Homo sapiens: one gene and its partner. The protein of the gene in region 2 interacts with the protein of the main gene of each other region in a biochemical or structural test. Each region holds a gene or a part of one and is shown on either strand. Other genes may lie near its edges.

What was found. Proteins that work in one complex are often made in the same cells at the same time.
Region 1: the proteins of PRSS21 (region 2) and SERPINB5 form a complex in vitro, tested with the Homo sapiens proteins (one study listed by IntAct).

The regions. Positions count from the first base shown.
Region 1 is NC_000018.10:63,472,498-63,479,960, reverse strand, and holds the start of SERPINB5 (serpin B5), read right to left. Parts: upstream 3,004-7,463; 5' UTR 2,916-3,003; intron 1-2,915. UniProt on the Homo sapiens protein: Tumor suppressor. It blocks the growth, invasion, and metastatic properties of mammary tumors.
Region 2 is NC_000016.10:2,812,382-2,820,245, reverse strand, and holds the start of PRSS21 (testisin isoform 1 preproprotein), read right to left. Parts: upstream 3,010-7,864; 5' UTR 2,978-3,009; coding exon 2,914-2,977; intron 2,817-2,913; coding exon 2,790-2,816; intron 2,446-2,789; coding exon 2,280-2,445; intron 1,570-2,279; coding exon 1,277-1,569; intron 1-1,276. UniProt on the Homo sapiens protein: Could regulate proteolytic events associated with testicular germ cell maturation.

The DNA.
Region 1 (7,463 bases), on a different chromosome or scaffold from region 2:
TTCTCTCAGAAGTCTCTCGAGTTCCAAAAATCCTGCATGTCCTGAAGTCTCCCCTTGAAGATATCAACATATCCTGCATGGTTTGTTCAATCGACACAAAACTTCTTCCCTATGATTTTCCTACTTGAAGAAGCCCTTGTTCCCTTTCTGCCACTTATGTTGTAAACTCTTGGTATGATGTTGCTTTCATCTAGTAAGTATTAACTGAGTACCTAATTTGTGTCAGGGTAAGCATTAAGAAAAGGTGAAAACGACATAGCCCCTGCCTCCAAGGAGCTGTCAGTTAGTGGTATGATGACTGTTTTAAGTGTTTTGATGAGCACCCAAGTCACTATGGGATCCCCAGGAGTGACAGACCCCCCATACTAGAAACCTCAGTGACACCTCCTCAGAGACAGTGACAACTGAGTAAGTCACATTAAAGGTGAGTCCTACAGGATAAGTAGGAGTTAGCCTTGCAAAAACGTGGGACAGGGAGAACTGACTCAATTCAGAGAGGCCCCAGTGAATGGAGACGCATGTACTGGGCTGGGGGTAGGGCCGTGCTCACTTCTCTAGACTTATAGCTTGTCACTGGTCTTTGTATGAAGATTTCCTAAGTTTTTTATGCATCTGAGCCAATGGTCCTCACATTTTTTGTCTTTAGACCATTTAGGTGAGAAAAAAGTCCTGTGGGTAGGATATATACATCCCACTTTGCCTGGGACAATCCTGGTTTATGTCTGTTGTCTTGACATTGATAACAGTGCCCCGTTTACTCTCAAACATATCCTGATTTGAACAATATATGTTCATTTTACTTATAGACCATCAACCACACTCTTCACCCACACATCACGGGCGTGCATATTTAAACAGAGCTATGAGTATAGTTTTTTCATCCCTTAAAACCTTAACTTTTGGCCGGGTACAGTGGCTCACACCTGTAATCCCAGCACTTTGGGAGGCCAAGGCGGGCAGATCACTTGAGGTCAGGAGTTCGAGACCAGCCTGGCCAACATGGTGAAACCCTGTGTCTACCAAAAATATAGAAATTAGCCGGGCGTGGTGGCACGTGCCTGTCATCCCAGCTACTTGGGAGGCTGAGACAGAAAAATCACTTGAACCTGGGAGGGTGAGGTTGCGGTGAGCCAAGATCGTGCCACTGCACTCCATCCTGGGTGACAAAGCAAGACTCCATCTCAAGAAAAAAAAAAAAAAAACTACGTTTTTACTGTGTCAGAGTATCGTAGATATCATTTAGCCTGGCCTGCCTCATTTTAAAGATGGAAAGACATGGTGAAAAACATCTCTCAAGTATTTGGTATAACCAGTCCTTAGGGAATGCCATGAGAAACCTTGCCTATTATAATATCAGTAATGGAATGCCAAAAAACACAACCTCTGTTGTCCACATTCTAAGTCTTTGAGGAGCAAAGGATGTGCAGGATTAAGAAAATAGGATATTTTGAAGTTTCTGCAATGTGAAAGACTATGAGGACTAAACGAAGTGATTAAGTGAATCAATGTATATGAAAAGTGCTTTGTGGGCAAGAAAGTACAATACAGCTATTAGTAATTGCTTTAATTTCCCATGGCAGGGGGGCGTCTGCTTTGCTCTGAAGCATCATAGCTGCTCCTGTCTCTTTAGAAGCCTGATCTTGACCACTGACCCAGCCCACTGTTGCCAAGCAGTAAACTTACAGCCAGACTCAGCCACACCAGAATGGCCCAAATCGCTGAGACTGCATAGCCCCAAAGTCAATCCACAACCCAGAGGGATTGAAGTGGCACAATTCAAGGCGTTAGGAAGCAAAGATATAAACCTGCTGACTCATTTCCTTTGGAGACTCCTTTCCTCAGACAGGCTTCATCTCCACCCATGAAGGAACTCATCGAACACTTACACTAACTGACAGGGACTGAGGTTTGGAACCCATTATCGAAAACCTCCCGGGAGATGTAGGGGATGAAAAAGATGGTAACAGAACCCACGGTGTTGTGGAAACATCCCGAGCTGCAAGTGTGAAGGCCTGATTTGATCTCAGCGGTGCTACTTACAAGCTGTGTGCCTTTGGACACCAGATCACCTCTGTGAGTTCTGCTCCTCATCTACAGAATGAGGGGGCTGGGCTGAAATATGTCTAAGAGCCCCCAGCTCTGAGGATCTGGTTACAAGTCTCTGGAATAGCCTGGCATGTTGGTTTTTAGTATGATATGCTTAAATGAAGCCATAAGAAAAAGTGTACAGCATATGAGTAAGAAACTACAAGCAGCTATTACAATTTATAAGTCCAAGAATATGCATCTGAAATGTGTAACTTGTTTAAAGTTATGCTGAAACCCAGAAAACTGAAGGGAGAATAATTTCCGCTTAGAAGAATGCAGTTGCAAGTAGATGAACAGCGATCTGATGCTTAAAAATGCCAAAAAGAAGGGCAGTCCATATGCCTAAATCTCAGCCTTACAACGTCAGCCAGGGAGAAGAGCCAGCCAGACCCACCAATACTTCTCAACTTTCCCCAGTTTGCGGGTACCACACCCTTTCTGAAACTAGCATTGCAAAATTCATTCTGAGTTCCAAAGTAGGCCTGAAAATGTCCTCAGAAGTATTTTCTCCTCCGTGAATCACGGTTGCACCCCTCTACCACCAAAACCTCCGAGCCACGTGACTTCTTCATATTCTTACCTTGTATGGTTAAGTGATTTTACTCCCTCTGCAGTGTTCCTGGTGCTCAAAGGGTTGGGAGCTGGAAATACTGCCAACATGGGGGATGAGAGGCGACAGTACTCAACCCAACAGCCCGTCTTTGAAAACAGCCCCAAAATGGACCTAAGTCCATTTTGTTCACCATCTCAAATCAGCTCAAATAACGATATTTATGAATTTCCCTGAAAAAAGGAAGTCACCAGCCCTGCTACCCCACCTTGCTTACCTGGAGTCACAGTTATCCTGGAAAATGCGTGGAAAAGGAACAGGCAAGCGAGGAGCACAAAGACCTGGATGTGGAGGCGACCGTGTCTGGGCAGAAGCAGCGGTGGCTCACCTGGGCAGCACCGCCACGCCCACTGCCAGCCCAGCTCCACGCCCCGCCCCGCCCCGCCTCGGCGGCACTCCTCTCCTACTCAAGCCTCTTGGCAGCTTGTCCACAATTGAAAGAAATGATTCAGGCTGAAGTTACTGTTGTCTGCACAGCTTCCAAAAGGCCTCCAACATGTTCGGGCAGGAAGGGGCTGTGAGTTACATGCATACGTACAGACATGCGTACGGCAATCCTCTCGGCCCACGCAGGACCGGAAGGTGAAATATTCGATGAAATAAAAGTAATGTGTGATGATAGTAACACTACAAATTTCTCAGACACGTTGGTGGCACAAAAAGTACTCTGATCTCCATTCTTTTTGTGTAAACTGCAGCAGCTCATTCTGCTAGATGCCAAGAGAGGTAGCTGCCCATTAAACAGAAAGACAATCAAAAAAGAAGGAATGGATATATGTATAAACACAGTGCCTACCTAAAAATTAGGTACTATTAGCAAAATATTTACTACCAAATTGGTAGGAGATATTGTTTAATGGGTGGCGCAGGAAGTTTCTTTTTAAAATCCTGTGATTAGGATTACTCAGGCCTGGCGCGGTGGCTCACGCCTGTAATCCCAGCATTTGGGGAGGTTGACGTGAGCGGATTGCTTGAGCCCAGGAGTTTGAGACCAACCTGGGCAACATGGTGAGACCCCATCTCTACAAAAAATGTAAAACAATAGCCTAGTGTGGTGATGCATGCCTGTGGTCCCAGTTACTTGGAAAGCTGAGACGAGAGGATCACTTGAGCCTGGGAGGTCAAAGCTGCAGTGAGCCGTGAGCTAACCACTGTACTTCAGCCTGGGTGACAGAGCAAAAGAAACAAAAAGAAAAAGGAGTACGCAGCTCTGCTCTGAAATCTCTTCGTGGAGCCTGTTCTTGTCCTCCTGTCTTCCCACAGCTTCTTCATTTGGCGGGACCTACTCCCTTCCAGCCGAATCAGTCTCAGGAAAGGACCTGAAACGGAGCTGGTTGCTTCTCTGCTGTGCTTATCTAGAATTCCCTATTGTACATTTACTACATTGTTTCATAATAATCTCTTACATTCTCCTATATGTGACTACAACAATGTTAAAGGTAAGTGCCAAACTTCATTCATTTTTATAACACCAAAGCTTGGTACAGACCTGATGTACAGTATGCAGTCAATAAGTGCTTGTTGAGTAATGAATAAGAGCAACTCGCTATATTAACTGACTAAACTAAGATTGATAACAGCTTCCCCTCCCCCATGTCCTGGGTATTTTAATGTTAACCAGAATCAAAGTCATAAACTAAGTGAACTCCAAAAACAGAATTTTAGGCATCAGTGGAGCAAGTGGAGGGAAGGTCATAGGTGAGGAGGTGTGGAAGGATGCTTCTTAAAAATTCTATTATCCAGCTGTAGGAGGGAAAATGAGAATTTGGGAGCAGAGTCATAAATTTGCAAACTAAGTCTAACCACTCATTGCTTGAGAAATCCTGAGCAAATTGCTTAATCCCTTTATCTTCAGATTCCTCATCTGTAAAATGAGATCTATATATAGTTCTCATTTGTCAATAAGATCGATAAAATGAGATATAGACAGAGATGGATGAAGAGACAATTCTTACATACTTTCTGACACATAGCATGTGCTTCCTAATGATGGCAATTAGTACCACTTTGCCCATTGGTTAGGTAGGCTCGGGGAATAGTGGACAAAAGACTGGAGCATGTTATTGACATTGAATTCACCACATTTATTGAATACCTGCTTCGTGCTTGCTACTGTGGTCTACAGATTTCAAGCGACTTGCATTTAAATGGTAGAGCCTCTCTATTCTCCTTTTTGAAGTTTTAATTCCCTCTAAAACACTCCTGTTCAGTGCTTGCTCAACCGGGGCAGAAACATTTCCAATGACAGGAATTCAACAATACCCAAGGAAGTTCTAGCAAAGTGAAATGCCTTTGGGTGATTCTAACTGGGTGAAAATTAGAGGCACCATTCGACTGGGGCTATAAGACATGTTCCCTCTCCCCAAAGGGTACAGTAGGAAGACAAGAAACAAAAGAAAGTATCTGGAGGCATGTAATAAGGGACTTAAGAGAGGTGCAAATGACAAAAGTAGTTCAGAGATGGGTGTGACCTTTTCAGTCTGGCTATGACTGGGGAAGGATCATGGAGGCAGCATCATTGGACATCAGGAGACCATTTAAGCCTGAGAACGGAGGTCCAGAGCTGGGATGATACAAGGTATATTGGACAGATATGTTAACAAAAGATTAAACAGAACATTTCCTGTCAAAAGCTTTCACTTGTTGAAGTATCTCTGGAGGTCAGACCCTGTACGTGAATGTTCTCACCCTCTCATTGAACCCAAGTAAGGCAAGGACTCACAAGTCTCAGGTGTAACATCATTGACAAAACACACTGTTGATTTAGGCAAAATTGCAGGAAAAAAAAAAGTGGTTCCCATTCAGTGGAAAGAGTATTAAAACTGTGATTCTATTTGACTGAGAAGACCCATTTCCCAGTAATATTCTTTTCCACGGCAGCCAAAATTTTAAGTTCTTTAGAATTCTACCTAAAAAGACACTAGAAAACAGAAAAGTGGGAGAGGATGGAGTTATACAAGCAGTTCACATTTTTTAAATTACAGAATTTCAAACTAGTTTCTGGAGAACATGCCTGCTGATTAATTTTAGGAAAGAGTGGCCTCAATAAAGTCTTCTGCATTCAATAGGTTTCTACTCTGCTTCCCTGTTTTAACTGGACATTTTGATTGGAGTCTGTGATTGACTGAATAAGCATTTTTTGAGTGTGTCAGACCCTGGGCAAGACCCAGAATAAGACCTAACTATGGATCTCAAGCCGACTACAGTTTAGCTTTGCATTTCTATAAGTCAGATACCTACACTAATTGTTATACTGTAAAAAAAAAAAAAAAAAAAAAAAAAAAACATACATCCTGAAGGAAATGCCTGGAAAGAACAAAGTTGTCATGTCAATTATGTTAACAAGTGGACTTAGAAGCATCAGACTTATAAGAAAAAAGGTTCTACTCATACTAATAACTCAGAGAGCAACAACATAAAAATAACAATATGGTGTTATTATCCTGTTATAATCTTCAGTCTCTTGCCTCATGAAAAGCTTTTTATGTGGGCCCATGAATAGTCAACTCCAGAGTATTTTTGATCTCCCTTCTTCTTGATGAACTTTGAACCTATAAGAAGCAGATATAAGGCCAGATTTTATAGTTTTCTATATGATATACTATACAATTCACTTATTATGTTTACTGTTGATGGCCTCCTTCAGCTGAAATCTAAGCAGATTTTTTTGGTCTGTTTTTTTCACTGATGTAGTCCAAGAACTTAGAATAGTATCTGGCACATAGTGGGTACTTAGCACATAGTGGGTAGAGAATGAATGAGTGGGAAATAACCCTACCCGACAGGAATTCAACTAAGGATGAATTCAACCCAAAATTTGAAGTCAGTTTGACATTTCCTTAAATACCAGCTACCTTTCCTCCAGTTCTCTTTGTATATGAAGACCAGTACATCTGATTCATCCCAAACACTTTACATTTGTAAAATAAATGATTCTTTTTTTTTTTTTTTTTTTTTTTTTTTTTTTTTTTTTTTTGAGACGGAGTCTCGCTCTGTCGCCCAGGCTGGAGTGCAGTGGCACGATCTCGGCTCACTGCAAGCTCCACCTCCTGGGTTCATGCCATTCTCCTGCCTCAGCCTCCCAAGTAGCTGGGACTACAGGCGCCCGCCACCATGCCCAGCTAATTTTTTTTTTATTTTATTTTTTAGTAGAGACGGGGTTTCACCTTGTTAGCCAGGATGATCTTGATCTCCTGACCTTGTGACCCACCTGCCTCAGACTCCCAAAGTGCTGGGATTACAGGCGTAAGCCACCGCACCCAACCAAATAAATGATTTATTTAAAAAAATTTAGTGACAAAGAATACACCTGTTTGTAGGAAAAAGCATTTGCTCTATAATTTCAAAAATAATCCATAATGTTTTCCCCTCTCTTTATTTGCCACAAAAACCATTTTATTGACTATATATTTAAAAGAGTAGATTTTTTGGAGGGGAGATACATAGCTCAAAGAATGAATTATTCATTCATTCATTATACAATTGTATGAAGCAATAACTTCCTCTAGTTCAACACAAGTAATCATTGGACTAAATATTTAATAACCTAGGAGACTGTTTTGTTGGTGCTTTTTCTTACCTATAGGTTGAAGCTTTGCAAATATTATACTTGATTACTCAGCATCGAGGCTGAGGGATGATTTGACACACCCAGCCACTCCCAGGAACAAATGAAAGGAGCTTTGTTCTAGCATGTGCCTCTCGCTTTCTCTCTCTCTCTCTCTCTCTGTCTCGCTCTCGCTCTCACTCAATCTCTCTCTTTTCC
Region 2 (7,864 bases):
ACTAGCCTCTGATGTGGCACCATCATTCCCCTATTTCACAGGGGAGGAAACTGAGGCACTGTAAGATGAACACCTTTGCCCAAGGCCTCCCAGCCCGCGCAGGGCACAGCAAAGGTGCACACCAGGCAGGGGGCTCCAGAAGTGCCTGTCCCCTGCCTCCCCGGCACTGTGAATTGAGGCACAGCCTGGGGTTGGTGTGACCTGTCTACCCTGGGCTGGGGAGAGAGGGTGGCAGAGGCAGCCTGGCCGTGCCCCTGGCTCATATCCACTCGTGTTTGCAGCAAGGGTCCTTCTCAGGGAAGGCAAAGGATCCCTCCTCCAGAGGGAGGCGGCTCCAGTGCTGAGTTCCCCACTCCCAACTGCCGGGGTGTGACTTGGGGACATCCCTTACCCTCTCTAAGGCAAGGGGCCCTGACTTCTCCATTTACTAGTTCTTGGCAATTTCCATAACCCTCTCAGTTTTCTCATCTGTAAGATGGGTATAAGAACGTTACCAACTTCATTCCTAGGTGAGCTCCAGCAGGAGGAGAGGCCGCGCCTGGCTCACTGCTGGGCCCCCATGTCTAGAACAGTGCCAGGCACACAGCGTGTGCTCAAGGAACCACGTTTGTTATTGTTACTACTGTTGTGGGATGATGCAGGGACGGGCCAGACAGGGGAGCAGAGGGAAGGGATTCCTGATACAGGGAACACGCCCAGTCTGGGGCTGCCGGGGCTCCTCCGGATGCTGGGCCCACTTCTTTCAGGGCATGTGTGTTGGGGGACACGCAGGTGCCAGGGCAGGCCCACCAGAGGAACCCCCAGAGGGGTTTCCGTGGGAGCTGCGGTTGAGCATGGCTTGGAAGTTTCTGGGGAGAGGAATGGGCTCAGTGCTGCAGGAGAATCGGCCAGAGCTAGGGTGGGTGTGGGAGGCATGGAGAGGCAGCCCAGGAGCCTGATGCCTGGGGCATTGGTGAGCACTGGGGGAGGTGGAAAGATGCAGGAATAAATCCAAGTATGAGGTTTATGTCGCCAAGCCCTCCAGAACCCCTCCACCACCGCACCACCCACAGGCCTGCGCCAAACTGGCCTCCCTCTCACACTCTCCTTCTGGCCCCCACAGCCCCTGGAAGGGAGAGAACTGGGTGTTTGGTCCCTGCCCTGGCAGGTGAGGAGAGACTGCAAGCAAGAGGGGCATAGCCTGCACCCCCAGACCAAGCAGGGGGCTATTGTGCCTATGCAGGGGAACAGGTGAACAAAGACAGTTCCTCCCTGACCCGCCTGTCCCCAGCCTCACCCTCATCCTCTTTGATGTACCCCCAGCCAGTCACCCAGCAGTCTGTCCGGTTCTCAAACTCAAATGTGGAGGCCTGGAGACAGATGGGCTGGATGTGTTTAGTGTAGGTGACAGGTGCAGACAGCTTCACCAAGGCAATGTCATAGGGTGAATTCCCCAGGTAGCGAGGGCTCAGATAGATATTCGATACGAAGTAACGGGTGTAGTAGGCCTGCAGGCTCCAGAAGGATGGCATGGAAGTCAGCTGGCCAAACTGGACCATCCACCCGGAGGGATCACTAAGGTCACTATAGCTGGCAGAAGAGAAGAGAGCAGTCAGGGGCCCTGGATGGAGGGCTGGCTACCTGAGCACAACTGGGGTCCAGTGCAGGAGGGGAAACTGTGGTGTTGCTGCTACTTGCTAACACCCAGGGTCCCCTGCAGAAATGAAGGAGCCCAGACAGACCACAACCAAAGTCCTAGGACCTGCTCCTGCAGCAGAAGGGTGGGGTCTTGTCACCTCCCAGAGCTGTCCCAAGGAGCCTTGCATTGAGCCAAGGCCTCCAGGGGCACCCCCATGCAGCCCAAGGAGGAATGGGGAGATGCACCACGCCAATGTGGGATTGGCAGGATGGAGTCCACACAGCGGCCCGGGGGTGCTGGCCTTGGCTCAGTGCCCCACACTGTACCGCACCGTCCACCAGGAGGGGGGATGAGGGTGGGATGGTCAGTGGTGAACTTTGGGTTGAAAGAAAAAGGGAGAGAATACCCAAAAGTGTGTGGAAATGTTCTGGAAGAACATTCTGGAATAACCTGAACAGGGTTCCCTCCAGGAGACCCAAAGGGAACTGGAGTGGGTGTAACCGGCTGCAGCACAGCCTGGGGCTCAGGAGAACACCAGGCCGCATCCACGCACAACTTTCACGCCCAAGTCTGGCATCAGACCAGAGGTAAAGTTCGGTGGCACTCCCTCCAGCCCTGTTCCTGCCCGTCCCCGCACCCCTCCGTTCGCACCCCCACTCACGTTTCAAAGCAGTGCGCCGCCGTGAGTGCCCAGCGGTGGCTGAGCAGGCTCACTCCGCATACGTGGGAATCCCACAGGCGCAGGCTCCCCTGCCACGGCCAACGCCCGAGTTCGGCGTCCTCTCCACCCACGATGCGCGACGTGATGACCCGTCGGCCGCATGGTCCTCGGATGGTCAGAGGAACTGCTGAGCCGCGGGAGGCAGCCCCCCAAGCCCGACCTCTCCCTTTCTCCCCTTCAACCCCGTCCGGGAAAGCACGTTTTTGCCCACCCAGGGTCCCCTCGCGTGTGTGCAGCAGGAAGTAGGTGACACTGGAGATCCTCCCACGTGCTCTGCAGGGCCCGCCCATCCCCCTCCAGCGTCCGTTAGTTACTTTCCACGCCAACAGAGTTCTCGATCCCGGGGGCGGGGGCGAGAGAGCAGTAAAGGCCCCCCTCTACCCCCTCACCGCCCCCCGTCCACCTCGGCCCAACGGCCCTGGCAGGAATCGCGCGTCCTGGGCGCCCTACCTGATAACGGCGCCGCCTCCTGCGACTCTGCGGGAGACAAGAAGTGACTCCCCGCGGCCTCCACCTCCCGTCCTCCCCACCGCTCCCCCGCCTCCCCATCCCGCCAGCAGCGCCCCGAGCTCACCCGGCTTCCTGAGTCCAGCCCGAGCCAGCAGCAGCGCCAGCAGCAGCGCCCCGCGCGCGCCCATGGCCTCCTCTCCCGCGGCCTGACGCCCCCTCTGCCTCCTCTCGCGCCGGGCCCGGGGCGCCCCCTGGGGGCGGGGCGGGGTGGGAGCTCTGCCCTCTACTCCCAGCTTCACCCTCCTGGGCCCAAGGGCTGTTTGGGGCCTCTCATGCCTGGCAGCGCCCTGGCTTTCAGCCCCTAGGGGCGGGTCTTCAACCACACTTCTTGATGTGGCCCAGACCCGGTGGACCCCACAGTCCCTTTCTTGTCTGCAGCCCAGGGGTCCCGGCTGCCCTCTTGGTGACCCCGTCCTCCACCTACAACCTCCTCCAGCACCAAGGGCCTGGCCCTGAGCCAGGAGTCCCCTTAAAGCCTGGGGACCCCCTGAAGGCCGGGTGGGGCCTAGAGGCATGGCTGCTCCTTCATGGGACCTTCTTGGGAAAACAGTGGTCCTCGGCCCGTTCCACCCAGAATGGGGATCTCCCCAAGTCTCTGCCCAGGCTGTCCCCACTGCGGGCTCCCGCTGGGCTCTCTTCACTTCTCTGGAACAATTTTTTTTTTTTTTGAGATGGAGTTTCGCTCTTGTCGCCCAGGCTGGAGTGCATTGGCGTGATCCCAGCTCACTGCAACCTCCACCTCCTGGGTTCAAGCGATTCTCCTGCCTCAGCCTCCCAAGTAGCTGGGGTTACAGGCGCGCGCCAGCACACCTGGCTCATTTTTGTATTTTTAGTACAGACGGGGTTTCGCCATGTTAACCAGGCTGGTCTCCAACTCCTGACCTCAGGTAATCCGCCCACCTCGGCCTCTCAAAGTGCTGGGATTACAGGCATGAGCCACCGCGCCCAGCTGCAATTCCACTTCTGAGCATACACCCAAAAGAACTGAAAGGAAGGTCTTCAAGAGATATTTGTTTTTGGTTTTTTGGGGGGATTTAGTTTTGTTTGTTTTTGAGATGGAGTCTTGCTCCATCGCTCAGGCTGGAGTGCAGTGGTGCGATCTTGGCTCACTGCAACATCTGCCTCCTGGGTTCAAGTGATTCTCCTGTCTCAGCCTCCAGAGTAGCTGGGATTAGAGGCACCTGCCACCATGCTTAGCTAATTTTTGTATTTTTAGTAGAGATGGGGTTTCGCCATGTTGGCCAGGCTGGTCTTGAACTTCTGACCTCAGGTGATCTGCCCTCTGCGGCCTCCCAAAGTGCCAGGGTGAAGGTGTGAGCCACCCCACCCAGCCTTCAAGAGATATTTGTATACCCATGTTCATAGCAGGATTATTCACAGTAGCTGACATGAAAGCAACCCAAGAATCCATTGACCACTGAACAGATCAGTGAAAATGGGAATGTACAACCAGAACCTGGGAATCCCGCCTCCCTCAACTTGAAACTTGGGAATAGCGTATTCTACTTTCAACACTTGCACTAGTGGAAGGTTAATTACATGAAAGATTAGGCAAAATGTGTGGTTAGGCGTTCTGGTTTTCCAATAAAAGTATTAAGTTTCTTTGGGGAAAGTACAGATAAAATGCTTAGCACAGAGCATGGTACCAACGGGAACTCAATGAGGGCGCAGCGGGTGTGTGGGAGCTTCGGGTTTCAGGAGCACAAGGCTGCGGTGCCTTCCCTCAGGGCCTCCTTCCCCAGCAGCAGCTGCTCAAGGACAAGTCACATGCACAGCCTGGCCTTGGCCTGCTGGGTTGGGGCAAAGGTCCCTGGGCTTCTGATCCTGCCCCTCTCCCAGCCAGCAGGACGTTCCCTCTGGTTCCTGAGTCCCAGGGATCCGCTGAGGCCCCTAGGAGGTGTCAGCTCCTGGTTTTGCCCAGGGTCTCAGTCAGGCCAGTCCTACCCGGAGATCTGAGCCAGGGACTCAGGTTCTTGCCTCCAGTGAGGCTGGGGGCTTCCCGCAGAGGCCAAGCCTGGCCCGGGGGCTGCAGGGAGGCCCTGGCTGCTGCATGGGCTGCAGATGGAGACTCTCTTGTCTGCTGTGCCTCAGGCTGCAGAGTCACAGAGGGGTCTTCCCAAGCCCCACACCTGGAGGGCAGGGAGGACAGGGACTTGTGGTCCTAACCCGACTCCTGACACATAAGGGCCAGCCGGCCCGGAGCCACCTCTGCGGGCAGGAGAAGGCCTCATTGTTCCCTTCTCCTGGCAGAATGAGGACTGGGGCGTGCCCGGGGCAGGAAATAAATGCTCAGTAAATCCCTCTCTTGGGAGCCCTGATCCCAAGGGACAAAGGGCCTGTGTTGAGTCTCCCTGGGCACGGGCTCGGGGCCAGCACTTGGGCCATGGCAGATGGAGGGTGGGAGGAGGGTGCCTCCCACCAGGTGGGCTTCTTCCCCAGGTCAGGCATGCAGGTGAGGAGCGTCCTCGTGTGTGCATGCCCCCTGCGTGCAGGAGAGGCTGGGCGGGTGTGTGTGTCTGGGTGTATGTGTGTGCATGCATCTTCAAGTGCACGTGTGTGAACGACCATGTGTGATCCCCGTTCTCGTGCCATCTGAACATCCCCTCCAGTGTGCATTTGGGTGAGTCCTGGCGCCCCTCTGGCCAGGCTGCTAACTATCCCTTCCACCAAGTCCCCTCAACCTCAGCTGGTGCTTCTGGAGTCCTGGCCCAAGTGACTCTCCTTCTGGGCGCCAAACCCTGTCAGCCTGGAGTTAGAAAGAAGGCCCCTGAACTGCCAGCAAAACATGGAAAGACAGGTCGGGTGCCATGGCTCAAGCCTGTAATCCCAGCACTTTGGGGAGCCGAGGCGGATGGATCACAAGTTCAGGAGTTCGAGACCAGCCTGGCCAACATGGTGAAATCCTGTCTCTACTAAAAGTACAAAAAATAGCTGGGCATGGTGGTGGGCACCTGTAATCTCAGCTACTCTGGAGGCTGAGGCAGGAGAATCATTTGAACCTGGGAGGCAGAGGTTGCGGTGAGCCGAGATCGCACCATTGCACTCCAGCCTGGGTGAGAGGGCGAGAGTCCGTGTTTAAAAAAAAAAAAAAAACAAAAAACAAAACAAAACAAAACATGGAAAGGTGCCCTTAGGCTGGGCTAGCGCGAGAACACAGCCCGCTTTGTGGCACCTCCAAGCTCCTGCCTCTGAGAGCTGTGCTGGCCAAGGGCTTGGCCTCTTCCACCTCCACCTCCCTGAAGGAGGCTCCTCCTGAGAGGGACTCCGCTGCCCACTCCCTGTGCCTGGCCCCTGCTATCCCTGAAAGTCAGAGGAATGCTGGACGGGTGGTGCAGAGGGGTGGGAGCTGGGTGGGTGGTGCAGAGGGATGGGAGCTGGGTGGGTGGTGCAGAAGGGTGGGAGCAGAGGTACAGTGGGGGCCTCATCTTGGCACATCAGTCAGTGGGAGCCCAGCTCTGACCAGCCCCTCCAGGGAGACGGTGCAGGCGTCACAACCAGAGCCAGGTGCCAAAACTAAAGTGAGGCTCTGCTCCCGCCCTGTCAGTCTCTGGCAACTTCTGTTTTGCTTTCTGTCCCTACGCTTTTGGCTGCTCTAAGTACTTCATATGTGTGAAATCACACGGTGTTCGTTTTTTGTGACTGGCTTATTTCACTGAGCACAGTGTCTTCATGGCTCATCCATATCGCTGTATGTGTCACAATTTCCTTCCTTTTTCTTTTTTTCTTTATTTTATTTTATTTTATTTTTTGAGACAGGGTCTCCCTCTATTGGCCAGGCTGGAGGGCAGTGGTGAGATCTTGGCTCTCTGCAGCCTCAGCATCCCAGGCTCAATGTAATCCTCTTACCTCATCCTCCCAAGTAGCTGGGACCACAGGTGCGGGCCACCACACCCAGCTACGTTTTTATTTTTACTTTTATTTTATTTTATTTTTTTTTTTTTTGAGACTAAGTCTCACTGTCGCCCGGGCTAATGTGCAGTGGGGCGATCTCGGCTCGCTGCAGCCTCTGCCTCCCGAGTTCAAGTGATTCTCCTGCCTCAGCCTCCCGAGTAGCTAGGACTATAGGCGTGTGCCACCACGTCCAGCTAATTTTTGTATTTTTAGTAGAGACGGGGTTTCACTATGTTGGCCAGGCTGGTCTCGAACTCCTGACCTTGTGATCCGCCCACCTCGGCCTCCCAAAGTGCTGGGATTACAGGCATGAGCCACCGCGCCCGGCCCATTTTTATTTTAAATTTTTTGTAGAGCAAAATGTTATCCAGGCTGGTCTTGAACTCCTGGCCTCCAGCGATCCTTCTGCCCTGGTCTCTCAAAGTGCTGGAATTACAGGTGCGGGCCACCCATCCATGGCCCCCCTAGTTCTCTTGTCCTCCTTCCCCTCACTAAGACAGCCAGAACAATGAATAAACAATATTTGTTTTTGTTTTTGTTTTTGTTTTTGAGACAGAGTTTTGCTCTTTTTGCCCAGGCTGGAGTGCAATGGCGTGATCTCAACTCACTGCAACCTCCGCCTCCCGGGTTCAAGCAATTCTCCTGCCTCAGCCTCCCAAGTAGCTGGGATTACAGGCACCTACCACCATGCCCCCTTTTTTTTTTTTTTTTTTTTTTTTGTATTTTTAGTAGAGACAGTTTCACCAGGTTGGCCAGGATGGTCTCGATCTCTTGACCTCATGATCTGCCCGCCTTGGCCTCCCAAAGTGCTGGGATTACAGGTGTGAGCCACCGCGCCTGGCCAACAATTAACTTTTAATGAAAATAACTGAGGAAGAGCACCAGAGTGCTTTAGAGGAGTAACAGAAACCTGGTGAGCAGAGAAACTCAGGATGGCCGCATGAAGAACAGAAGGAAACACTGGGCCTGCACCCCAGTCCTCAACCAGGATCAGCTGGGAATGAGGCAAGGAGGTAAGCAGGGGATCCCAGGAGCCCCACCAGCACCTTGGACACCTATAGCCCTCACCACTAGCGTCCCCTGTCCTCACAGGCACTAAGCCCAGGCAAGGGGGCTAACTGAGG